2 separate regions of the Homo sapiens genome follow, and region 2 is linked to region 1. Evidence: fine-mapped expression QTL. Tissue or cell type: whole blood. Region 1 holds a variant in brackets; the other region holds the start of a gene. All regions are shown on one strand. Distances are from middle to middle.

What was found.
Region 2: it holds the start of TOB1, and the variant in region 1 is fine-mapped to the expression of TOB1 in whole blood (TOPMed, PIP 0.95).

The regions. Positions count from the first base shown.
Region 1 is chr17:50,911,857-50,923,319 of GRCh38, forward strand. No RefSeq gene overlaps it. Among named protein-coding and RNA genes, the nearest start is that of TOB1-AS1, 51 kb to the left of the region's middle. RefSeq lists enhancers at 4,356-4,485, 5,880-6,799, 6,057-6,226 and a silencer at 5,374-5,433. The variant G/A (reference allele first, on the strand shown) is at 7,638.
Region 2 is chr17:50,862,733-50,878,667 of GRCh38, forward strand. It overlaps TOB1 (transducer of ERBB2, 1), which reads right to left and starts at 3,622. Exons shown (of 2, transcript NM_005749.4): 1 at 3,326-3,622; 2 at 1-1,431. The coding sequence starts at 1,285. The coding sequence ends at 248. TOB1-AS1 (TOB1 antisense RNA 1) reads left to right here and starts at 3,947. Exons shown (of 2, transcript NR_038458.1): 1 at 3,947-4,485; 2 at 4,764-5,639. RefSeq lists an enhancer at 2,238-2,287 and silencers at 2,828-3,437, 3,448-3,957.

The DNA of each region.
Region 1 (11,463 bases):
ATGCCAGACCAGAATCATTGTATCCTGAGGCTCGGGCCATTCCGTGGCCCCCGGTCATCCCCAGGAGCTGGAGTATGTGTCTGCTGCACTGTGGGAGAGCCCCTGCACCCACACTGAACCCAAGGGTGACCCTTTCCCTGAGATCAAGTGATGTAGAGGCTCAGGAAGAGCCCAGCTGCAGTGCTCAACTCCACCAGAAGGGAAGGGGAGGGAAGGGGGCAACAGAAACCCCTGTTGTCATGCAGAAAAGGAAAGCTTGTCTGGGAAAGGGTGTCCGCACTGTCCTTCCCCAGGGCTGTGCAGACCGATGGTCTGCAGGTACAAGTACCAAGCAGAGAGGGCCTGCTCTGATTCACACTTAGCTCTCTGGGAGAGAGACAAGGGCAAGCTTGGATCCTGGAGGACCAGAGAGAAAAGCCCCTGACCTAGGAGGTAGGAAGGGGAGGGCATTTATTTGTTCTATCTGCTCCTGATCAAAATGTAGTCTCCACATGTGGCCTGTGGAAACAGACCCCTCACCTCCAGCTCAAGGCTCCTGTGTACTGTCCTCCTCTAGTCCCTGTCTCTGTGGTCTAGCTACTTTGCCTCAGCCACTGGGCATCAGATCTGGGGCAGCATGGTCTAATAGAAATATAACCCGAGCCACACATAGAATATAATATTTTCTTTTTTCTTTTTTTTTGAGATGGAGTCTCGCTCTGTCACCCAGGCTGGAGTGCAGTGGCGTGATCTCGGCTTACTGCTTGCTGCAACCTCTACCTCCTGGGTTCAAGCAATTCTCATGCCTCAGCCTCCCAAGTAGCTGGGATTACAGGCGTGCACCACCATGCCTGGCTAATTTTTGTATTTTTAGTAGAGACGGAGTTTCACCATGTTGGCCAGGCTGGTCTCAAACTCCTGACCTCAGGTGATCCACCTGCCTTGGCCTCCCAAAGTGCTGGGATTATAGGCATGAGCCACTGCACCCAGCCAGAATATAGTATTTTCTAATAGCCACATTTAAAACAAGGAAACAGGTAAAATTAATTTTTTGAATATATTTTGCTTAACCCAATATGTCTAGAATATTATAATTTCAACACATAAACCATTTAAAAAGTAAAGAGATCTTTTATATTCTTTTTTCATACTAAATTTTCAAGATCTGGTTGGTATGTAGTTTACTCTTGTGGCACATCTCAGTGTGGACTAACTGTTCCAGTGCCCATGGGCACATGGCCATGGCTACCATATTGGAGAGTGCAGGTCTGGCACTTTCCTTGTGCCCTCCACTCCCCACAGGGGAGGTCAGAGGCCTCCTCAGAGGCCCCTGTCCAGACCCCTTTGCCTTTCCCTGACCCAGGAGCAAATCATCCTTTGGGTCGGGGTGCCCATTTATGTTTCCTTATTGGACAGTGGGGAAGGCAAGACTCCTGGACTGGGCATCAGAAGGCTCTGCCACTCAGCCTGCTGTGTGACCTGGAGCAAGTTACCTCCCCTCTCTGGGCACTGGCCTCATTCTCTGTCAGATGAATTTTCATTAGATTTGTGACTTTCAAACTGTGGAACCTGTTTTTCCAAGGCAATCTCATGCCGAACCCCCCATGTATAAATCACAGGAGAGTGGAGCTGCTCAAGGCACTGTGAGCTGCTGCCTCCAGCTCCCAGCCTGGAGATCACTCAGTGGCCAGGCCCTGGAGCACAGAGGGTGAAAACCTGGCACTATCAGTCTGCAACTCACATTTTCAGACCTAATTTTCTTTTTTTTTTTTCTTTCTTTCTTTCTTTCTTTTCTTTTCCTTTTTTTTTTTTTTTTTTTTTTTTTTGAGACAGACTCTTGCTGTGTCGCTCAGGCTGGAATGCAGTCTCAGCTCACTGCAACCTCTGCCCCTCTCCCAGTTCAAGCGATTCTCCTGCCTCAGCCTCCTGAATAGCTGGGACTACAGGCGCCTGCCATCATGCTGGCTAATTTTTGTTTTAGTAGAGACAGGGTTTTGCCATGTTGGCCAGGCTGGTCTCAAACTCCTGACCTCAGGTGATCCACCCGCCTCTGCCTCCCAAAGTGCTGGGATTACAGGCATGAGCCACCGTCCCGGCCTCACACCTAATTTTCTAAACCTGCAAATGACACCGTAGGTTGCTTATGGGCCCGTGTACATAGTAAAAGTATGAAAACATGCATAGGAAATGTGCTGGTTTCAAGTTAGTGGTCTCCTCTGATGAGGGAGGAAGAAGGATGGGCTAGGGATGTCACTTCCGTTCTATTGCCAAAATTTAATTTTTGATTGAAAGAGACCTAAAGAGAATAGAGTGAAATATTTACATGTGTCCAAATTTAGTGGTGGGTTTGTGGCTGAGATATTACTCTGTACTTTTCTGTATATTTGAAATATTTTACAACTTTAATTTGAAACTTTAAGAAGGACAAATAAATATAATCTGGTCTCACCTTAGGCATAGAATTTATTTATTTATTTATTTATTTATTTATTTTAGACGGAGTCTCGCTCTGTCTCCCAGGCTGGAGTGCACTGGCGCAATCTTGGCTCACTGCAACCTCCACCTCCCAGCTTCGAGTGATTCTTCTGCCTCGGCCACCCAAGTAGCTGGGACTACAGGCACGTGCCACCAAGCCCGGCTGATTTTTATATTTTTAGTAGAGATGAGGTTTCACCATGTTGGTCAGGCTGGTCTCGAACTCCTGACCTTGTGATCAGCCCACCTCGGCCTCCCAAAGTGCTGGGATTAGAGGCGTGAGCCACCGCATCCAGCCAGGCATAGAATATTTTTAAACGGTCAAGTAAAATGTAACTTTCCCTCCCCACAACACACTTGGTAATCCCTAAGACCCCCCACCGCCCCGACCATCTCCCTGCTCTGGTAGTTCAGGAATGTAGGCGCTCAATTGACCAAGGGTCAGGAGTTCTGAGGAAGCAGACAGCAGCTGAGCATTTATTCAATAAGTATCAACTCTACCTTTGGGGTATCAGGTATGTGGGGGTCCCAGAGAATTGAGACCCAACCCTGGTTCAAGAGGAGCCTGAGATGGGTGAGACCTTTCATGGTTAACCTGGCCTCAGGGATGGCTGTGAGGGGCCGAGGGAGGAGGAGGGATCTGCACCTCTCTGGCTCCCATGCCCCCAGCCTGCGGTCTCTGGGTGGAGGGAGGCCCCTCCTCTCCATCACTCACTGCTCTTTCCTCTCCTATCGCAGCTTGACTCTCCAATGCACTGCGGATTGCCTTGGGCCCCTCTGGTCGAGTTTTGGGGGGCTCAGCTCACCCCTCTGAATGTGTGTGTGTTCTCCCCTGGGCCCCATTGCTGGTTCCTCCCAGTCACCGTTTCCCCCACATCCACTGATGAGGCCCCAAGCTCAGAAAGTTCAGGAGACCTGCCAGGGTCACCCTTCTGGGCTGGGCATGGCAGGAGGAGGGTTGTGGGAGGGCAGCTATGTACCAAGTCCAGCGAGGTTATTTCACCCCAGCAAACAGGTCCTGCTGGTTTGCCATTTGGAGAGAGTTTGGCCCCAGTTCCCATGGACTGGTTAAATGGTAACTTGTCTTCAGTTGTTTGTGGAAATGTGACAGGGCACAGGCCACCAGCTAGGCCGGAAAAGCCGTGTGAGGCCCAGCTAGCTCTGGGCATTGGACTGCAAGCCATGCTTCCCTCCCCTCCCCTCCCCTCCCCTCTCCTCTCCTCTCCTCTCTTTTGAGACAGAGTCTCACTCTGTCACCCAGGCTGGAGTGCAGTGTCGCGATCCTGGCCCACCACAACTTCTGCCTCCCAGGTTCAAGCAATTCTCCTGCCTCAGCCTCTTGAGTAGCTGGGATTACAGGCGCCCACCACCACGCCCAGCTAATTTTGTATTTTTAGTAGAAACAGGGATTTACCATGTTGGCCAGGCTGGTCTCAAACTCCTGACCTCAAGAGATCCACCCGCCTCAGCCTCCCAAAGTGTTGGGATTACAGGCATGAGCCACTGTGCCTGGCTTTTTTCTTTCTTTCTTTTTCTTTTCTTTTCTTTCTTCCTTTTTGTCCCCCACAAGGTTTCACCCTGTTGCCCAGGCTGGAGTACAGTGGCATGATTACGGCTCACTATAACCTTGAACTCCCAGGCTCAGGTGATCCTCCAGCCTCAGCCTCAGCCTCCCAAGTACCAGAAGTACTAGGACTACAGACACATGCCACGCCTGGCTAATTTTTTTTTTTTTTTTTTTTTGAGACTGGGTCTGGCTATGCTGCCCAGGCTAAGCAATACTTATTTTCCTTATTTTTATTCTAATAAGATTCCAGAATCTTCCCCTTTCACATGTCTTCCTAGCCAGATGAGTAAGAGCAAGGAGGAGTGGTGATGTTAATAACAGAGTGACACAGCCTTTGAGGGCCTTTCATTGGCAGATTTCTTAACCAAGAGCAGCTGTGCCCATTTTACAGGAGGAAAAACTGAGACAAAGAGGAGTGAGGTCACTATGAGTCACTGGCCTTTCTGGCCTAACTCAGACTAGGCTCAATATGGCTGAGCCAAAGAGACAGAGCAGGCTGGGGGTGGGGATGGAAAGAAACTCTGGTTCTTCAAAGAGAGTTGACTGTCCTTGCTGGCCTTAGACATCACCCCTTCCCTTTATTCAGTGCCTGCCTGATTAGAGCTGGACATACAGGATCTCATCTGCTCCCACAACCACCATCTAAAATAGGCAGAGCAGGTTTTACTTGCCCTGTGTTAGTTACAGACAAGGAAACAGAGTTACAGACAAGGAAACAGAGTCAGCAAGATTAGGAGCCTTGTCCAGTTCCACAGCTGGTCAGGCCCAGGGAGACCAGGCCGCTGGACACCAGCTCAAGATGCAAGCTTATCTGCGATTCCCAAGCTTATACCAGGCCTGACTCTGTTTCCAGCGAAAGAACCCCAGGACATAATGTTTCTGAGCTGAGTGTTAGATGGATCAGGGGCTAAGGATTTGGGAGGACCTTTCTTGAAATTAACAGCTGCTTCGAGAGTGAGGCTTCCGACCCGCCCTTTCTTTATTTCCTCTGGGCCTGGTTTGGCAGACCTCCACCCCCAGCCCACAATCCCAGATGGACAGAGGTAGTTCTCTCCAGCTTTTGGAGACCTCGGGGAGGAAGAAGCCTCGCTCACCCGCTCCTAGACAGTGTGTGTGAGCCCTCAGGCACCCAGGGTGGGCAATGCTTCCCAGGCAGAGAGGGCGTGCAATGCAAGTGAGGTGTCCATTAGACAGACCCAGGGCACTCCAAGCCCCATAGAGTGACTCACTTTCTTTCTTGGCACCCCCAAACGACTCTACCTTCCTCAGCAGGTCTTGTGAAGGTGCAGTGACACAATGTGCATGAAAGAGGCTCGAGCAGGACCTGATGCACAGTAGGTGCTCAACAGCTCCGCCCCGCCCCGCCCTGGCCCCCCGCCACAGCTTCCTGTGCCCCTGTGCTGTGATTTCAGCCTCAGAGGAATGGAAGACCCCAGGATTTCCCCAGGAGGGAGTCTGGCATCCTCGCCATCGTGGTTGGCTCCTGTGCTCACCCATCGAGGCCACTCAATGCTGCGCTGGGGTGGGAGATTCTTTATTGAGGAATCTGCAGAGGTCAGGGGAAGGCAGGAGCCAGGGCCACAGGGGAGGCCGGCCAAGGACAGCTGCCCACAGCAGGCCACAGCTGGGGCCCTCCCCACACTGCATGCTGGCTTGTTTTTCATGCAAAACCATGTTATGTAAATCAGTGCTGGGTTGAGCACACTCAAGTCAGAGTCACGAATTGGGTCCCCCACCGCCCATCCAGGGTGTCTGAAGGCCTAGGCCAGCATGCCCATTATTCAGCCAGAGCAGGTGGCCGAGCCAGCTGGGCTCGTCCCCAAATACTTTCAGGGAGGGACGCTAGGCCTAGGACCCGGGGTCTACAGCCCTGAGGGGAGGGGGCAGAGGATGCAGCCTTGGAAAGCCCAGTACCTGGTGAGTAGGGAAGTGTCCTCCCAGGTGGTTCCAACCTTTAACCCAATTCCTCTGTCTTGGAGGCAAAGGGAAAGGACGTGGCTGATCCCCGCAGAGCCCAAGGCCAGCCACCATCCTTTCATGGAGCCAGGCAGCTTCGAGAAGCCACTGAGGCTCCTTGTGCTCCTTGTGTGGGCACAAAGTGTGGGCTTCTGGAGGGGGTCCTTGGACCTCTATCTCAGCAGGGACATTCCTCCTCCCCCCGCCTTCCAGACCTCCTGCTCCAGATGCCTGGCTTCTCCAGGGCACCCCGATGGGTGGCTCTGCCACCCCAGGACACTGGACTGGGGCCACCCTTACAGAACCGGTTCGAAGCCAAACAATGGCACGTCACAGTCCAGCTGAGCCGGAGGCCTCAGCAGGGTAAGTACAAGTGAGGCTGTGGCCAAGAGGGGCATAGGTGCCAGGGACTCAGAGGCGGGCGCGCGCAAGTGCCAGCAAGCCCTCACTGCCTAACATGGCAGCCCCATGGCTTCCTCTCTTCCCCGTGACCTGACTGCAGCTTTGAGGACAGCACTTGCCCTCCCCTCCCAGGCAGCGGGCCCCTTCCCTGGCCCCAGAGGTGAAGGAGGGCGACTTCCCCAGGGAGAGGAAGCAGAATGACGGCCTGCAGCTTTCCTGCCGCGGGAGGGGAACTTCAGGTCAGAATGGCCGTCTCAACCTCATGGAAGCCTCCCTCTGGACTGACGAGTGACCGCTGTTGTGGTGGGAGGTCCACCTTCCCGCAAAGGGAGCCAAGAGCCCAGAGGGGTCACTTGGGCCCAGGGAGGGTGGGACACAGACGTCTGGGTGGAAGTTGGACAAAGTCTGGCAGAATGGGGCACCAGGGCACAGTAAGACCCTGGCTGGGACACTGAGTGGGGACAGTCCCCAGCAATTCCCTTGGAGATAAAGAGCCTGCGGCAGGTCCCAGATCCTGACAGAGGACAGACAGGAGGGGACAAGCTGGTGGTGGGGGTGAGCTGGCTAGGCAGAAAGCTCTGTGGACACCTGAGGCCTCCTCCTGGAATTGCCCCAAGCCATGTGGCTAAGGCCTAGGGAGACCCTCACCATGTGGGGTGGGGTGGGGTGGGGGCCCCTAGCCAAAGCTGGGAAAAGGCAGAGCCTTCAGAGAGCCTCCTAGGGACAGCAGCAGAGAGGAAGCCTTCGAGGCCTTTCCAAGCTCCCCGCTGCCCGGCTCTCCTCCTGCCCAGCACACCGTGGGTGGACTCCAACCTACAGCTTCACTGATCTCAGAAGGTCCCACCCTCTCCCGCCTTGTGCTTCTGACTGTTTATTTCCTGCAGAGGAGTCAGTGTTACTGCCACTGAGAACAGAGATGGCTCCACCCAGAGGGCCCACCCTTGGGGCACAGGGGACCCTTGCCCATACCCCCTGCACCCTGGCTCCATCCTAATGCAGGGATATGAGCTTGGGCCTGTGTCACAGCTGCTTCCTGGGCCTCTGAATCCTCATCCTTGAGCTGAGGGTGTGAGACCGGAAAATCCAAGCCACCATCCAGCCCCAATGTCTCCCCATCCCATGACTCTCTTCCCCAAATAACACATCTCCCCAAATACCTCTCCTCCTCCCCAGTGAGAGGAGGCGCAGGGGAGGTTGTTGGATAACTGTGCCTTCTCCTCCCCGAATCCCAGCCTCTCCTTCTGGATCCCACACCCAG[G/A]GGCCCAGCAGTCACGGGGCTCAGGGTGCTCCCCAGCCTTTACAGTTTACCCATCCCTGCACAGTAGCCATGATTTCATTTCCTCCTCACTGCAAGGTAAAGATCATTAGTTCTCTTTTATAGGTGAAGAGACTTAGACTCAGACAGACCCTGTGTCTTGCTCAAAGTCACCTGGCCAGTCAGGGGTAGGGCTGGGTTTCGAACCCAGGGGCAGGCCCTCTCCGCCCCCCGGCATCGGTGCAGAGCCCTGGGTCGCCCTCCTCCAAGGTCGTTGTGGTGTGAACAGCCAGGCGCCTTCATGCAGGGCCTGACTGCAGCCGCCAGAGCCTGGTGATGTCAGCATTGCCATGGAAACCCTTCCCCGGGCGTCGGGCAGGACCAGCCTCCCCAGCGCAGTTTCCCTTTGTGTGGACTTTGCAATGCGTTGCCAAGGCAGTGGGGCCTGCTGGGCGGGTTGGCATGGGGTGGGGAAGGCAGACAAAAACCCACACTGCAACTGGCAGCTCACAACAGGGCCCACGGTGCTTGTGGGAGGGAGGGGCTGCAGGCTGGTGGCCTAAGGCGTGAGAGTCGGTGGGCAGGGGGTTACCCACACACCTGCTTAGGACCCCCATCTGGCAACAGCCTTTTGGCGTCTTTGGTGCTATTTTGGGGTCCTGCTGCCTAAGAATCACCTGGGCCTGGGTGTTGTGAAAAAGGCAGACCTGCTGGGCCGGGGTGGAGAGGAGTCAGCAGTTTAAACAAACCCCCAAGGCAATTCGCGTATGCCACCAATTCCGAGGACACCTTCAGGGAAGAATAACATTTATTGAGCACCTAGCTATGCCAGGCAGGCCCTTCTGCCTATTTTCTTTCTTTCTTTCTTTCTTTTTTTTTCCGACAGAGTCTCACTCTGTTCCCCAGGCTGGAGTGCAGAAGCGCGATCTCAGCTCACTGCAACCTCTGCCTCCCGGGTTCAAGCAATTCTCCTGCCTCAGCCTCCCGAGTAGCTGGGACTACAGGTGTGTGCCACCATGCCTGGCTAATTTTTGTATTTTTAGTAGAGACAGGGTTTCACCATGTTGGCCAGGCTGGTCTCTAACTCCTGACCTCAAATGATCCGCCTGCCTCAGCCTCCCAAAGTGCTGGGATTACAGGCGTGAGCCACTGCACCCAGCCCCCTTCTGCTTATTTGCTCTTGCATTATAATCCTCACAGCAACCTTGAGTGGGAGAAGGGGACAGAAGAAAATTTTTTGTGTGGTTTTTTAAAAAAATCCTCATTTCCCAGAGGAAGACGCTGAAACTCAGAGAGGTTAAATCTCTGCTTGCCCACGGTCACTCGGCATAGATGTGGCTGAGTCCAGATTCTAACGCTGTAGCCTCCTCGCCATCCAAGCTGGGCCTGTGGCCTGGCAGTGTTCGCTTCCTCCTCTTGCTGGTTTTCCAGGAAGAATCCTAAAGTACCTTTGCAGAGTGGGCCAGCTCTGTCCGAAGCCTCCCACGAGCTCCCGGATCTAAGAGGGGATTGAGCCAAGCGAGAATCTCCAAGCCCAGGCCCCTCCCCAAACTGGCTGCCTGCAGAGGCTTAGAAAGCCTGCCCAGCCTAGTAAGGAAAACCAATGCCCTGGCCAAAGTCTCTCCTGTCCTCCAGCCACCTCGGCCCTCCAGCCACACCCTCCTCTGTCCTGCAGGCTGCCCTGGCCTCCGTGCTCCCTGAAAGAGCTCCTGAAGCCTCTGCTTCCTCCCCTCGCCCAGGGATAGGTGGTCTCTGACCCAGTCCACGGAGATGCCCCCTTCTTGGAAGTTTCCGGGAAGAGAAATTCGGTCGCCTTTGCTGGCGATGTTGCAGAGCCTCCTCTTACAACCGACAGCCTTCCTGTGTCCGTCCTCCACACTTCTGCTTTCTCTGAAGCCTGATTCCTTAAGAACTGTCTCTCTCTTTCTTTCTTTCTTTTCTTTTCTTTTTTTTGAGTCTTGCTCTGTTGCCCAGCCTGAAGCCCAGTGGCACAATCTCTGCTCACTGCAACCTCTGCCTCCCAGGTTCAAGTGATTCTCCTGCCTCGGCCTCCCTAGTAGTTGGGGTTGCAGGTGTGCACAACCACACTCAGATAGATAGTTTTTGTATTTTTAGTTCAGACAGGGTTTCACCATGTTGGCCAGGCTCGTCTCAAATTCCTGACCTCAGGTGATCTGCCTGCCTCAGCCTCCCAAAGTGCTGGGATTACAGGTGTGAGCCACTGCGCTTGGCCTCTCTCTTTCTTAACAACCTCTCTGAGGGCTCAAGGGGAAGGAACCCTACCCTTCAGCCCCGGGGCCCTATTTTGCCCGCTGACTCTGAAGCTGAGACTCTGCCTGATGCCACAGCCCCAGGATCCAGGCCCCTCCCTCTCCACCTGCATCTCCTTTATTTCTCATTTATTTATTGATTGATTTTTTTTGAGACAGGGTCCCGCTCAGTCACTTGGGCTGGAGTGCTGTGGCACCATCACAGCTCACTGCAGCCTCAGCCTCCCGGGCTCAAGCGATCCTCCTACCTCAGCCTCCCAAGCAGCTGGGACCACAAGTGCCCACCACCAGGCCCAGCTAATCTGTAAATTTTTTTGTAGAGAGAGGGTCTTCCTATGTTTCCCAGGCTCGTCTCCAACCCTTAGGCTTGAGTGATCCTCCTGCCTTGGTCTCCCAAAGTGTTGGGGTTACAGGCACCATGCCCAGCTGTGAATCTCCCTTACTAAGGTCAACAAACACTAGTGACCTCCACTGAGAGCTGGTGAGAACTAACCTCATGCCAGGGATGCCAGGAATGGTTGGATGGTGAATGGTGTTGGGGTTCAGCTTGTGCTGGGCACACCTAAAGCCAGCCAGGGTTCCAGTCCCAACATGACCAGGCCCTGCCTGTCCCTTCATTGAACAAGTATTTCCTGAAGTCTGTGCTATGTAATAGGAAGCGGTTTTTTTTTTAAAGTCCCCAAACAAGCCAAGGATGGAGGAGAATTAATAAAAGACAAACAATGGAATAACTGTGACCCCTGTGTCCCCATTGTAGAAGAGTACAACCTAGTCACAACCTAGTCGTAGTTCATGTTTGACTTTGGGATGAAGAGGAGGCATACTCCTGAATGCTGACAATGGTCATCGCTAGCTGGTGGCCTTTTAGGTGACTTTTATATACATTTGCTGCGCTTTCCAAACTTTCTATGCTGTAAGATGGAATTTTTATAAGCAGAGGAGCCCTGGCAAGCCTGAGTATTTGTTGAGAGCCTCTTAAGGAAAGCTCGTTGTCTACAGCCTCTGGGTCTGGAGGATGGGGCAGAGGTCAGCTGGTCCATGCCTTCTCCTCCCTACAGGGGCACACCCAGATCAGTCGATAAATTGCCTGGCCCCACCTGTGCAGGCTGGGTGAGGCTGCCTGGGTGGAGAGCCTGGGCCCAGGGGGCCCCTGGAGACTCTGACCCCAGCCAGAGTCCATAACAACCACAGGACCAGAAGGCAATGAATGGGTAACATCCACCATGGGCCTTATAACCTCCTCCCCGGCCCAGCCAGGCTGGGAAGCAGAGGAGAAGAGATGGGGGTGCTGGTTGTCTCAAGGAGAGGGACCCCAATGTGGAACAATAATGCCTCTTGCACAGGCTGTTGGGGGAATTAAATGTGATGACTGGCCCACAGGCCACAGAGGAGGAAACACTCAGTAAACATTGTTGGGCATGTGGATAAATGCACAAGCTGGCCGTGCTCCCTTATGGGGTTGGAAATCCTCTCCACACTGCAGAGTTGTAAAGTATCCTCTCCTTTACGATCTGGGTGGGAAGCACTCTCTGCTCCTGAATTCCCCCACACAGGCTGCA
Region 2 (15,935 bases), 47 kb before region 1:
TCCTTGCTATATCTTAAATACTGTAAGAGGCCATATCTGAGAGTATACTTTAAAATATACAGTCAGTATAAAATAACTTTGTGCTTGGTTGGCAAATGAAAAATGATGCATGTTTTATTATTATTTTTTTAACCAAGCTTGAATGTATCCTTACTATAAGCTTAAAAAAAAAAATTCTCAAGGAGGTGAAAAAAAAAATCCCCCTTGGGCCCGTGCATTTTAACTTGTACGATACATTTTCTTTTTTTTAGTTAGCCATAACAGGCTGGAATTGCTGGTTAGAATACTGCATGTTATTTAAGCTAAAATTCAAGCCATCTACAAAAGATTTCTCATTGAGGCCTCCATAGGCTGCAAACACATCAAAGGCATTACTGTACTGGAGAGGACTGAGGTTAAGGGGGCTGTCACCTGGGAACATTCCATTGGTACTACTACCTTGACCCTGCATATTAGGAAAAATAAATTCCTTGGCATTAGGAGAAAGAGCAGAGGTTTTCTGCTGTTGTTGCTGCTGTGGTGGTGGTGGTGGCGGTGGCGGCTGGGCTGGCTGCTGCTGTTGCTGTGGCTGCTGCTGGCTACCCAAGCCAAGCCCATACAGAGAGTGCATTGAGGAAGAGATGGCTTTCTGCTTCAAGAGGTCATTCACATTCAAGCCGAGGTTGATGGGAGAAGTACGTGCAACCTTGTTGCTACGGCCACTATTCTTCATTTTGGTAGAGCCGAACTTGGTGGCAGCAAAAGTGGCAGTGGTAAAGGTTAAAGGCTGAGTGGACCGGGGCATGAAGGTAGGGCTTACAGCAGCAGAGTGACCAAAAGGAGGCGATGGAGAGCTGGACACTGATGAGGCTGGGTCACTTATGGGCATAAAAACCTGGGCCTCTGGGTTAAAGCTGTTTTTGATCTCCTTATCCAACTCACATCCATTTTCATTATTATCATCCACGTAAAGCACCTTCACTGGTCCCTTTTCACCAATTTGGTAAGAAACCTCAAATGGGTCGATCCAAACACTAAGATCCTGTGGCAGATTGCCACGAACATCATCAATGTCCAAACCACTCTCTTTGGATGCTTGTTCAATCACTGGGTCCACTTTCTCCCCTATGTGTATACATCTAAACCCCGATCCTTTGTATGGCTTTTCAGGATACCAGTGCCCTTCATATTTCTTCTTAAGAAGTCTTTCAAGTTCTTCACCAAAAATGTTGACACGTCTCCTGGGAAGCTTATTGTACAAATACGAAATAATAAAATTTAGTGCTACTTGGATTTCAAGCTGCATAGCTGCTACGCCACAAAATTAGGTTTCAACTCCCCCACCAAAAAAAAAAAAAAAAAAAAAAGATGTTCAGTTTGTGGCAGAGAAACAAATTTTCATTCAAAGTGCTGGTATTAGTAGATTATCCTTCACCTTGAGTGATCTTGTTCCTTAAAACAAAAGCAAACATATCCAAATAAGATAAATGTAATATAAGTCCCATGACCTTCCCCCCTCCAAAGTAATTTCACCTTTCAAAATGTCTAAGATCCTGTGTTAGTCTGCTAAGGATAAAAAGAAAAAGAAAATGTCTACTAGGACAGAAAGCCTGAAAACTGTTACTAGCACAAAATAAACATAAAATAGAAAATCGTTTATTAAAGTTTAAAATGACACAGGAAAATGTAGATTTACAAATGAAATAATGCTTTTAAAAACCTGTTTCTGAATAGAGTTCTAAGAAGAAAAATCTCTAGAACATGCATTCTTCTCTCCTCAGTTCTCACAAGAATATTTATTGTACTCAGCATCCTCCCCCCACCCCCATATATATAGATGCCACTTTTAGGTAGTAATTTTTATTGTTATTCACCAACTTAGAAGTGAATCCATGTTTTAGTTTACTTTGGATATATACTGTTTAAATCTGCTCTGTCACTGACATTTAAAAATTTGGTTACGTTAGGAAGATCATTTTAATTTCCATAGTACATGATGCTAAAATTAAAGACACTGAGTACTAAATGAACTTCATCCTAGTAAATAATTATGAACCAAATTATTCTATATAGTTTCGGCCTTAAGTATACTAAGAGCATACAATATAATAAAATCCAGCTTCTCTGGGCCTTTTGTTTTCAATGTGTATTTTTCTAAATCTGAAAATACCTATTCGGCAGCAAGTATAACAAAAGCAAAGACACAAATTAAAACTATTGATTATTCTGTTTAAGGCCAGGGTTTCTGAGTTTTAGTCTGATTTTAAAAAACCTCCGTCTGTCCCTCTCTCCCTCCCTCCCTCTCACGGTAACAGCCGGAGAGGCAAGTATGGTAAGGTCGACCTTTAAACGTTTGCTGGATCAGCACTGGGTGGGGATAAGAAAAGATCAAGGGCAAACAGAAGATATTTGCGAAAGGGATCTATTTGCACACTGAAGTTGATTTAAAAGTACGTTTAAAAATCAAGTTGGTCTTAATTCGTCTGTTCTATTTTCCATATTCGTGGTGACAAAGGGAAAAAGAATCTCTGGCTGCCCCCAAACTACAAACACTTTCCAAGTCAAAAGCCTGAGTGCCGGCAGAGGCAGCTGATTAAGCCCAATTGCTTGAAGGTGCAGCCGAGCGAAATTCAGGCTCGGTGGAAGGTAGTTACAAAGCAACGCCTTAAGACAGGCAGGAGTGTGAAGAATTACATAAACAGCCAGTTAGATCTCATTAGATTTCTGCTCACAGCCCTCGGAGCCCAAGCGCTACAGCAGCAGCAACAGCAAGAGGAGGTGGAGGTGGAGGAGGAAGAGAGTACGAGCCTCCTCGGAGAAGGAGGAGGAAGGCCCGGGAAATGGAAGAGCAACCTCTCCCGGCTGGGCACCCAGCACCGAGCAGGTCGGGGCGCCGGGTCAGCCGCTCCCCTCCCCCGCCGTAACCCGACCCGCTGCTCCCCGCCCCGTGGCCCCCGCCCCGGGCTCCTGGGAGCCGGCCAGAGCCTGGGGGAGCACCGGTTCCTCGGCACCATTTTCAGCCTCGCGGCCACCGGCCCCTCGAACCCCAGCGTTCCACCGCGAGCTCGTCGCTCCTCCGGGCACCCCAACCCCCCAATTCCCGTCAGCTCGCCCCGGGCCGCCCGTCCCCGGCCAACTGCCCAGGACGAGCCCGACGCGCCGGCGGCCCCTCGGAGCCGCTCCCCTCGGGTCCTGGCGCTGCCCCCTCGGCGCCCAGGGCCGCGACCCCGCCGTCCCCGAGCTCCCGAGGGCCCAGGGCTCGACGCCGCTGCAGCCCCTCCTCCGCCGCCTGGGCCCGGGGCTCCCGTCTCCTCGCCGACCCCGCCCGGCGCCCCGAGATACTTACGGGCTGCTTCGGGGCGGCTTGGACCACAGACCCGCGGCTGGGCGGGGAGCAGCGCGGCAGGGCGGGGGCGCGGGAGGGTCGGGAGCGGCGAGCTCGCCGAGTGCAAGACGTTGCCGCTGCGGGGCTGAGGACAGAGGACAGAGGCCTCGGGCAGGCCTTGGGAGATCGCCGTTAGTGGCTCGGGGTGGCGGGCACGGGGGTCAGACGAGCGCGCTCACTTCTCCACACAGCCCGGTGCCCGGCCCAGCGTCCCCGTAGTGCGCCCGCTACACGCCGGGCCAGAGCTTCGCTCCTTCTGCCGCGGCGCGCGCCCCGCCTCTCGTTTTATGGCCTCCTCCCCGCCCCCATCCCCTCCGTCGGGGTGCGCGCGCCCGCTCCGCGTCACACAGCTCCGGCGGCGCAGCCATTCCCCGCGCTCCCCGCCCGGCACCCCGGTCCCCCGCCGGCCGGCTCCGCCCCTGCCCTGCCCCCCGACGCCATTGGCCAAGTCCCGCCTGCCCCTGTCCGGACGCGCGGCGGACGCAGGGGTGGGGAAGCCGCACCCTCCGGGCTCCAGGAGGGCCAATGAACCGACGATCGGAGCACTGGGGACGGAATGAAGAGAACGTCTGGAAAGGGACTGTGGGGGCAGACGTGCCAATGAGAGAGAAAGGGGTGGGGTAGGGCGGCTGACGCCCGGTTTAGGCGGAGAGCGCCGGGCAGAGGGGGAGGGGGACGAAGCTGGTGGCGAAGCGGCTCAGGAGAACCGGGGCTGGAGGAGCGGCAAGAGTACCCAGAAAGTGCCCTCTCCGCGGGGGTCTGCGGCCAAGGAGGATCCTGCTCGTGGAATAGCTACCAAATCGGCCTCCAGCCCACCCCAGGGGCGGGGTAGAGAAAGGGCAAACTGTGACCGGGACTTGTGCACCCGATTAATTGAATATTAATCACCCCAAGGCCTAGGCCAACCGCCACCCAGAGAGTGGCAGCTGCAGAACCCAAAGACGTGGAGCCGGGCTGGGGGTGGGGAAGGGAGGCCGCCACAGCTCCCGCCCCGCCGGCAGTTTAACTGCTTCCGCAGCCTCAGGCCTCCCGGTGCGACCCCGGCTGCGACTCGGATCCGTTTATTCCAAATGTCCCAGCCCACGCCGTGCCCAGAGTGTGGCGACACGAGGCCAAACTGCGTATGTATCTGTGTCCATGTCTACACACACACGCATGCGTGCATTTCTAGGGCTTGCTGGATCGCAGGTGCACAGAATAAACGCGGTGCCTGCTTGTAAAGCGCGTTTAAGATCATTCTTGGCTGAAATATGTGCGGGTACCTAGGGAGTGGGGTAAGAGAGGGACTCGTGGTGGGGGGCGGGTAAGTGCCTTTTTCACAACCTGCCCCAGAGAAATACACGAAATTACATCGGGAGTGGAATCGAGCGTCCCTCTCAGCTAAAAATATTACTCACAGGTAGCAACGACGCCTGATTGGCTGCGCTGGTCCCTTCGCAACGAGGCGATTGGCTGCCTGGTATCCAGGAGACCGACGTCAAACTCGGACTGGGAAAAGGGGAAAGTCTGGGGGGAGCGAAGGAGGGGACGGGGAGAAAGAAGCAATGAATGAAACGCCCATCGCCTGGCCTTCCCCTTTCCCCTTTCCCCTCTCCTCTCCATTCTTGGAGCACTTCCTGGAAAAACACCAGTTGGGGCGCCGCCTTCCCCTCCAAACGTTGGGGCCTGCACTCTCAACCTGCTATAAGGAAGTTAAACCGCAGCTCACCGAGGAGTAGGGTGTCTACGGGGCGGGCCCGTGTAGACCAGCTGTGCTCCTCGGGCACAAACCCGCCGTACATGCCAGGCCTAGAAGCTTTTGGCTTTGTGGACGCAAAATCTGGTTGGAGCCGCCTTCTCCACCCTGACTCTCCCGCCTCTCCTTTTTAGAAGGAACCGCACTGAGAAAGGGTATTTCTGAAGGCTCAATGCGTAGGAGAAGGGGTGGGAAGATGGGTTTGTGGAATGGGCTGAGGGTGGGGAGTGGTCAGGTGACTGATTTCATGTTTATTGTACAGATTCCTAAAACATAGTTTTACTAAGTGACTCCTTAAATTCTGATTAATGTGATTTTTTTTTTTTTTTGAGTGTTTGGGTTTTTTAGTTGCAAACAGGAGTGGAATTGAAATGTGAAAGTATGGCAAAACTGTGAAAGCATTTAAATTAAAATGTCCCTTCCTCTGCATTGAAATGTCATCAAAGCGTCAAATATAAATGATTTGTTCAGTTTTCTTTTTTTATTTGTTTGTTTTTGGTTTTCTGTAATGACAAGTCCATCTGTAATAAAAGTGAGTTATTTTTAGTTTTCTAATTAAGCACAGAAATTTCAAGAAACTAGACAGGATATCCTTGGAATGCCTTACCAAAAGAAACACTTCATTTTTCACGTGTTCTAGAAGCACAACTTCTTTTACCATTAGGCAAATAATGGTACTGTACCAAACATCTAGAACTGCGGGACCATGTGTCTTGATTAGTAATTTTATATTGGGGGGGCATATTAGGCATGGCTGAGACTAAAATGTCTAAAGATAGATGAATTGTAATTTTGTCAAACTTATCTGTACTTTTCAATAATTCTCTAAAGAGAAGGGACAAGTTCTCTTTTCTGAATGTCTTCAATCTGTAATTCCAGATTTGAAATATGAGAGCAGTCATCTGATAGGTACTGATTAAATATCAGTAGCATTAAAAGCATTTTTAAGTCAGAAATGTAGATGTCAAAAATTTATGAGTTATTGCTGCTTGGCCTAGGAGTGTAAGAAGATGTCTGACCAAATATAAACACACACACACACACCACACAAACAACACACACGGAGGCCCCATGGCATACTGGAAAAAGCAATGAAGGGTGGGTACTGGGAGGTCTGAGTTTCACACCAGTTTCAATAAACTTTTAGTTTTCTCACCTATAAAAAGGGTTGAATTAGATCATATCTAATGTCTCCTTCAATTAAAAAAAAATTCCACACTTGGCTGGGAGCAGTGGCTTACGCCTGTAATCCCAGCACTTTGGGAGGCTGAGGCAGGCAGATTACCTGAGCTCAGGAATTTGAGACCAGCCTGGCCAACACGGTGAAACCCCGTCTCTACTGAAAATACAAAAATTAGCCGGGTGTAGTGGCACACGCCTGTAATCCCAGCTACTTGGGAGGCTGAGGCAGGAGAATTGCTTGAGCCTGGGAGATGGAGGTTGCAGTGCGCCGCGATCGTGCCACTGCACTCCTGCTGGCCGACAGAGCGAGACTCTCTCTCAAAAAAATAAATAAATAAAATATTCCGCCCTTAAAACTCAATGTTCCTAACATATATACTGCAGCTGTTCTTCAAATACAGATTGCAAGTCAGGGCGCGGTGGCTCTCGCCTGTAATCCCAGTACTTTGGGAGGCCAAGGTGGGTGGATCATCTGAGGTCGGGAGCTCGAGATCAGCTTGACCAACATGGAGAAACCCTGTCTCTACTAAAAATACAAAATTAGCCTGGCATGGTGGCGCATGCCTGTAATCCCAGCTACTCGGGAGGCTGAGGCAGGAGAATCACTTGAACCCGGGAGGCGGAGGTTGCGGTGAGCTGGGATCGCGCCATTGCACTCCAGCCTAGGCAACAGGAGCAAAACTTCGTTTCAAAAAAGAAAAAAAATACATATATATGGATTGCAAATAAAAGGGAAAACTGATTCACATCTCTGAACATTGCCAGTCACGAGGTATAAAATGTTCTTTATCCAAGTTCTGCATATGGCTTATTATTATCTAACATTTACTTTGGAATTGTGCAGGGGAGTGGAGGGCTAACTGCTAATTGTGCAGGGAATTAGACTTATGGAGGAAAAAAGAATTTGATATTAGGCTCCAAGTGTATCACAATCAAGAGGTATTCCTCTCTCTGAGCAAATAACAGTCACTAGAAACTACAGCCTTTGCCTTTCACATCCCTACATTCTACACAATTCCCAGTGGGCCCTTACAATAAAGGTAATCGTTTGGTAAAAAATAACTTCCAATATCTTCATAAAATACAGTTCTTGAAAGTGCCTTGAATTATTACCTAATCCACACAAGAACACACACATGCAACACCTTGATTTCTGAGATAGAGACATCCTAAGTTTTCTAATTCTTAATATGCTTCCTTGTAAATTGAGAAAGGGTTACAGGAGAATAGCTATCACATGGTGTATAATTATTAATACTCATTTTACTTCTTTTTTTTTTTTTTTTTTTTTTTTGAGACAGAGTCTCACTCTGTCGCCAGGCTGGAGTGCAGTGGCACAGTCTTGGCTCACTGCAACCTCTGCCTTCCGGGTTCAAGTGATTCTCCTGCCTCAGCCTCCCAAGTAGCTGGGACTACAGGCATGCGCCACCACTCCCAGCTAACTTTTGTATTTTTAGTAGAGATGGGGTTTCACCATGTTGGCCAGGATGGTCTCTATCTCTTGACCTCGTGATCCGCCCGCCTCGGCCTCCCAAAGTGTTGGGATTACAGGCATGAGCCACCGCACCCGGCCGACTCATTTCACTTCTAAGGAATCAACCTTTTACCTTTATTTGAAAATAAGACAGGCAGGGCAAGGTGGCTCACATGCTCGTAATGCCAGCATTTTAGGAGGCTTGAGGCGGGAGGATCCCTTGAGCCGAGGAGTTCGAGATCAGCCTATGCAACACAGTGAGACCCCTATCTCTATTTTATTTAAAAAAAAAAAAAAGGCGGGAGTGGTGATGCACACCTGTAGTCCCAGCTACTTGGAAGGCTGAGGTGGGAGAATCTCTTGAGACAAGGAGGTGGAGACCAGCCTATACAGCATAGCGAGGCCGTTTCTATTTTATTTTCTTTTATTTTTTAAAAATTAGCCGGGCGTGGTGGCGCACACCTGTAGTTCCAGCTACTTGGAAGGCCGAGGCAGGAGGATCTCTTGAGACCAGGAGGTCGAGGCTGCAGTGAGCAGTGATCGTGCCACTGCACTCCAGCCTGAGCAACAGAGGGAGGCCTTGTCTCAAACTAACAACAACAAAAAAACCCCATAATGTTCTTATTGTGATTTTTATTTATTTCTTTTTAAACGGTCATGCAACATAAATCATAGCACACACATTTTAAAATTATTATTAATTTTTTTTGAGACAGAGTCTCGCTCTGCGCCCAGGCTGGAGTGCAGCTCACTGCAGCCTCCCGGGTTCAAGTGATTCTTCCACCTCAGCCTCCCGAGTAGCTGGGATTACAGGCACCCGCTATCATGCCCAGCTAATTTTTGTATTTTTGTAGAGACAGGGTTTCACCGTGTTGGCCAGGCTGGTCTTGAACTGCAGGGATTACAGGCGTGAGCCACTATGCCTGGCCTAAAATTAATTTTTTAAATCATGCTCTAGTCATTGAGTTATTGAAAACCAAGTAAACCAGTTCTCTTCTAAACATTTCTCAAAAAAAGGCAATCCAGTTACGTCTGAGGAAACCTCAGTGTGGTTTCCTGTGGCTTTTCACATGGGTTTGTAGTGGAGGGCTATATAGTCTCCAGAAGACACTGGCACACAGACATTTGTAATTAAAAGATAACTAGATAATGTTGAACAAGCCTACTAAAGCAACGTGGTCTGATAGGAGAATGTTTCCTTATAATTTGCTCACTTTCTATTATCTTGATGAACAAAATCCAAACCAAATCTTGCAATTTCTTTCCATTAGCCGAGGAGGAAGATTTTGATTTCAGTAAAGAGATTATAGTGCGGGTTCTAGGAGTGATACGGTGTTCATGACATTCTAAGTACAAAGAACATTTATATAAAGTACTCTGAGAGCAAATGTTATTAGAGTACTTTAAATACATTTAAAGCATGGGTTGCATATGTTATTATGCAGCTCTGCTTACTAAAATAGAATGTGATTTTATATATATAACCAATTGTGGCAGACACTGTTGCCAGCTCACCCGTTTCCCATGCCCCATCCTCATTCCCTTTTCTTCCTGACTAAAGAGGCTAGAAGAGCTAAATGCATGTTTTCCCAGGCTTCATTGCAGTAGAGGTGGCACTGTGACACTGTTCTGCAGATAAGATGTAAACAGAAGTCAGCTGGGATGGTTTCTGAGGGTGCTATGCTTTTCCTATCAGAGAGGTTTGTTCTAGTTACTATTGCTGCATGAAAAACTATCCAAAACACGCATTTACTGTGGCACAAAAGGTCAATTTTATTATACCCTTGGATCCTGTAGGTAAGAAATTCAGGCTTGGCCTGGTGGCTCACACCTGTAATCCCAGCACTTTGGGAGGCCAAGGAGGGCGGACCACTTGAGGTTAGGAGTTCGAGACCAGCCTGGCCAACATAGCAAAACCCCCTCTCTACTAAAAATACAAAAAAATTAGCCAGGCATGGTGGTTTGTGCCTGTAATCCCAGCTACTCAGGAAGCTGAGGCAGGAGAATGACTTGAACCCAGGAGGCAAAGGTTGCAGTGAGCCAAGATAGCATCACTGCACTCCAGCCTGGGTGACAGAGAGAGATTCCGTCTTAAAAAAAAAAAAAAATTCAGACAGGGCACAAGGGGATGGATAGCTTATCACTGCTCCATAGTGTCTGGAACCTCAGCTGGAAAGGCTCAAATGCTCAAGTATCATCTGAAGCAGGTCTAACAGAACTTCCTCCAGTGATGGGAATATGCCATATCCGTGCTGTCAAATATAATAGCCACATGCGGCTCTTGAGCACTTGAAATGTGGCCAGTGTGACTGAGGAACTGAATTTTTACTTTAATTTAGTTTTAATGAAATTTAGATTTAAATAATCACATGTGGACAGCAGCTTCTGAATTGGACAGCATGGACCTGGAAGCTTTTTCAAAGCACATGTCTAGCACCTGGGCTGCAGTGACTCAAGGGCTGGGCTTAGTTGGCACTGTTGTTTGGAGCGTTTCCACATGGCCTCTGAATTTCCCCTGTGGTTTGGGCTTCTTACAGCGTGGCAGTTGAGAGGAAGCAGAGCAGTTTCTGGAGAGTGAACTTTTTAAAAATTAAAACCATTTTTTTCAAGTTTTTTCTAGAGATAGGGTCTTGCTGTGTTGCCCAGGCTGGTCTCAAACTCCTGGCCTCAAACAATCCTCCTGCCTTGGCCTCCCAAAGCAGTGGGATTACAGGCATGAGCTACCATGCCTGGCCACCATGGAAGCTGCCACCATGGAAGCTGCCACCAAGGAAGCTGCATGGCCTTTTATGACCCAGTCTCATAAGTCACAATGCACCACTTCCATTACACCCTAATGGTCAAAGTAACCACCAGCCAGATTCAAGGGGAGGGGACATAACCACCACCTCTCATGGAGGAGTGTCAAAGAATTTGAGGCCATTTTTAAAAATCACCACTGGGTCACTTCTCTCTTCTTCCTGCCTTGAACATGGATCTCATGGCAGGAGCTGCAGCAGCTCCTACTGAATAAACCATGAATAAAACGCAAGTTAATCACAGGGACAGGGGTTCTCACCAATGCTAGTCACTGCCTAGGTCTGGTCCACTTTTTAACCGACATTAAGTGTTCCATGACTTGCAGCTGAAGTATTTCCAGCAAAAACACTAATTTTACATCTTTTAAGGAAACCTGAACTTGATTTTCAAAAAAGCCAAAATAAATTTTTCCTCTAATCTAAAATATCAGGGCTTCTTTCTCATTATAAAACCTGGAAATGCTCATTATAGCAAATTTGGAACACATAGAAATAAAGAAGAAAATAGCAATCATCTTTAATCTCTCCATGCAGTGCTAACCATCTTGCTCCATTTCTTTCTGAATGAGTTTCTATCACACACGCAATTTTCTATCCTGCAGTTCACTTAACATTACATTTTTCCTATTTTCTCCTGACATTAAGCATTTGTCACAATCATCATTTTTAATGACTGCATATTATATTCTACTCTATGGATTTAGAATAATTTATTTAACCATCGCTGGGCATCTAAGTTGTTGAAAATGTTTCTGTATTAAAAACAAACATATTTAACAGGCATTTTTATATGTAAATCTTTAGCTACCTCTCTATTTCCCTGAGCTAGATTCTATAAGCAAACTTAGCGAGTGGAAGAGAAGGAATATTTTTTAAGGCTGGTAACATAATGACAATCCACCTTCCAGAGAGATTGTACTTTTTTACCTTCCCAGAGGATACGCACTGCAAAATCACTACATTTTTAGCCAGCGTTGCCTACTAAAAAATTTTTTTCTATCCTTGGCTAATTTGGTAGGTAAAATGATATCTGTTGTTTAATTTTTATTTCTTTGATTACATGTAGGATGAATAGAGTTTGACATGTTTGTCAGCTCGTTGTACTACTGTTTTTATAAATTTTTTATCTATGCCTTTTCTCCATGTTTCTCTTAGAGGTCTTTGTGTTTTGCTTCAATTTGTATGAGTATCTTGCATATTGTGTACAGATACGTGGCTGAAGAGGATCCTGGTCATAAACCTCACTCTAGAACTTGCCCAAACATTTTAAACATGTGATTTTGATGCCTAGAACCTTGCTTTTCAATCTACTGTTTCACTTTATAAGGTCCTGACTAACTCCTGGGTTATCCATAAATGCTTAAAAAAAAAAAAAAAGCAAGCCAGGTACAGTGGTACCTATAAGCCTAGCACTTTGGGAGGCTGAGATGGGAGAGAGGATCATTTGAGGCCATGAGGTTGAGACCAGCCTGGGCAACATAGCGAGACCCCTGTCTCTACAAAAAAAATAAAAATATTAGTAGGGTGTAGTGGCAAGCACCCGTAGTCCCAGCTACTAAGGAGGTTTGAGGTGGGAGTATCCCTTGAGCCCAGGAGTTCCAAGCGGCAAGTGATCATTCCATAGCACTCCAGCCTGGGTGACAGAGCAAGACCTTTTCTCAAAAACAAACAAACAAACAAAAACAGTTCTAATCATTTTTACTTAGGCCTCTGTCTTCTTGACCTTTCTGTCACATTTCACACTGTTTACTAATAACTACTTCAAATATTTCCTTTTGACTTTTAAGACTTTGCCCATTGTATTAACATTGGATATCCTAACATGGCCCCCACTTCCTATCTCAGCTGCAGTGGAGCAGAGAAGAAAAATTATGAATTCAAAATTAGAGAATTTGTGTTTGGGTCTTGCCACCTGGTATTAGTTGGGTATGGCTACTCTGAGTCTCAGCCCTCATCTTATAAATAATTAGAAGCAATAATTACCCTCAGAGTTGTGTGAGAATCAATTGAGGTGACACCTGTGAAAACGCTCTATGAACCGTCAAGCCCCCCATAAATGTGAATATTTTCTTCCTTCCTCTCCCCCTCCCTCTTCCCCTCCTTCCCTACTTTCTCCTCCTCCTCTCCTCCTTCTCTTCCTTCTCTGCTTCTTACATCTGGCAGAAATTCAAGTACCATTTGATTCAGCTCAAGTAAAAATACATGTGAAATTGCTTTTAAACTACAAACAAGTATTATTAACACTCTCTTCTGTCAGATACAGTGTTGCCAACTCAGTCCTTTTCACCTTCAAAAAACCTCTCAGAATCCCATGGCTTGATGTTTTATATTATTATTTAATTATTAGTTTATTTAGCCTTCCGTGTGTTTATGTCCTAGCCTTTGTTGGATTCCAAGCTTTTTAAGAGCAGAAAGCATGTACCTTTACACGAGCTTTATAGTGCCTTGCAGTCAATCAGTATTGACTGATGGCTTTGCTAGGTCGCTGCTTAATCCAATGAAAGAACACAGAATATTTGAGGAAGGGTAAGTGGCTCAGAGTGGCTGCTGTGGATGGTTCAGAGGTGAGAATCTAGAGAGGAGGCTGGTTGGTAGGCAGAGGCCAGATTACCAAGGGAGGAAATCTGGAATTTTGCCTTTAACAGACGGGAAGATGTTGGGTGATTTTTCAGTTGGGAAATGACATTATTGGAATTCTGTTTGGAGCACATTTTATTTATCTCTAAATGCCCCAGAGCATAGTACATTACTTGATACTTAGGAATTGCCCTGCCAATGTGTGTTCAATTGCTAGACGTAGTTTTATCACCCAATGGAATATTCTTCAATTGTTTGGTTGTTCTGAAGAAGAAATACTTACTGTCTTTTAAGGAAGATACAGACCCCACCTGGAGACCAATACTTCTATCCACTTGGGAACAAAAGGAAAAGTTTTGGCCGGGCGCGGTGGCTCAGGCCTGTCATCCCAACAATTTGGGAGCCTGAGGTGGATGAATCACTTGAGGCCAGGAGTTTGAGACCAGCCTGGCCAAGATGGTAAAATCCCATCTCTACTAAAAATACAAAAAGTAGCCAGCTGTTGTGGTGCGTGCCTGTAGTTCCAGCTACTTGGGAGGCTGAGGCATGAGAATTGCTTGAACCCAGGAGATGGAGGTTGCAGAGAGCCGAGATCATGCCACTGCACTACAGCCTGGGTGACAGAACGAGACTCTGTCACAAAAAAAAAAAAAAAGAAAAAGAAAAGAAAAGAAAAAATAAAAGATTATGTGGCAAGGTATTAAGTAAAAAAAACTTACGGTTTCTGAAAAAACTAAAACCTTTCTGTAGAAAATTCTACTGTGGTACCAGGAGGGTTGATTACTTCCACCTTTCCTTGTTGTTAGCCTAGACAACATCTGTTCCCCTTTCTTCCAGCAACAGTTGCGATTTTTGTGTGAGAACCTATACCTCTCCCACCCTTCATCCAGGAGCTTCTAGTGAGACTTGCGATTTTTGTGTGAGAACCTATACCTCTCCCACCCTTCATCCAGGAGCTTCCAGTGAGACTCTTGACAAGGCAAAAGCCAGCGAAAGCATCACATTCTCCTAACTACTGTGATGGGTTTAGGGATGGCTGATCAGAGCCAATAACTCAATTCTGGGACTTCTGTCTGAGGTCTTGGGATAAGGACTCTTTCCCATGAAATATGAACCTGGAAGTATTCATTGTTGAGGCTCCCAGGGCCATCTTAGTACCAAAAGGAGAGAGCCTGTCAGAGAATGTAGCTAACCCAGGTAAAACCAAGAAAAACCAAGTCCTGGAAACAGCCTTTTGAGCAGCCCTTGAATCAACTTTACCTGGACTTTCAGCTACAGGCTGTCTTAGCATAGGTTCCTAAACAAGCAGAGCCCAAGGCAAAGGGCTTTGCGCTACCACTTTATTTTTTATTTTTATTTATTTATTTATTTATTTATTTATTTATTTATTTATTTCGCTCTGTCGCCCAGGCTGGAGTGCAATCGTGCTATCTCAGCTCACTGCAACCTCCGCCTCCCGGGTTCAAGCGATTCTCCTGCCTCAGCCTCCTGAGTAGCTGGGATTATAGTCGCGTGCCACCACCCCAGCTAATTTTGTATTTTTAGTAGAGATAGGGTTTTGCCATGTTGGTCAGGCTGGTCTTGAACTCCCGATCTCAGGCGATCCACCTGCCTTGGCCTCCCAAAGTGCTCGGATTACAGGTGAGAGCCACTGCGCCTGGCCTTATTTTATTTTATTTTTTTTGAGATGGAGTCTTACTCTGTCCTCAACCAGGCTGGAGTGCAGTGGTATGATCTCAGCTTACTGCAACCTCCGCCTCCCAGGTTCAAGGGATTCTCCTGCCTCAGCCTCCCTAGTGGCTGGGATTACAGGTTCCTGCCACCACGCCCAGCTAATTTTTGTATATTTAGAAGAGACGGGGTTTCACCATGTTGGCCAGGCTGGTGTCGAACTCCTAACCTCAGTTTGCTACCACTTTAAGAGGGAGTGAAATCCCAGGAAGCAGGAGAGAGGGGCAAAGAGAGTAAAACAGCAAAGGAGGAGAACCTATTTCAGGTTGCGTTATTAAACCAATTGCTGTTAAGTAAAATTGCTTGATTCCATGGATTAGTCCTCCAAGAAGCCCTATAAACTGTATCCCTTTATGTGAGAAAAGAAAGGGGAGAATTCATCCATTGGTTCCCATCTCCCACTGGTCAAATAATTTATGCCATGTTGCATAACTGTATTGCATGGGTGTGTGTCCTGTCTCTCCAAGAGGCCTGCATTGTCATGAGAGCAGGCCAGTAGCTTCTACTGCCCTGTGCCTACACCATCCACAGAATGCTTAGTAAATATTTGACTGAACTGACTTTTCATAAAGTTCAGCATTCTGCTATTTGATCATTTGCATCCCAATGAGTTTTCCCCAATTTGTGCTGTTTTATTAACCTGTTAAATGTTATCATTTGAGTGGTACTTACACAATCAATTGCCAGCTGATTTCACATACTCAGTGGCATTTGGATTCTAAAGCCAAATCATTATCCTTCTATTCTCAATATGGTTAAAATCAAAAAATGTTAAATGACATGTAAACTAGCTCCAAGAGATTCGATGTTGACCAACACAGGGATTCCAGAAACTAAGAATGGAGAGACCAAGGGGAAGGAAATAACTAAAGAACTCAGAGAAGAAAAAATTGATGTATCAGTTAAGTAATAATTAAAGTTTTGGCTAACATAATTAATAAACTTGACTTGGTAGATATCGGTGTTCTTATAGGACTTTCCACATATAGACATTCTTTTCAACAACCCATGGACTAGTTTTAAAATTGCCTGTGTAATATGTAACCAAGAAAATTTACATAAATTCCCCCAAAT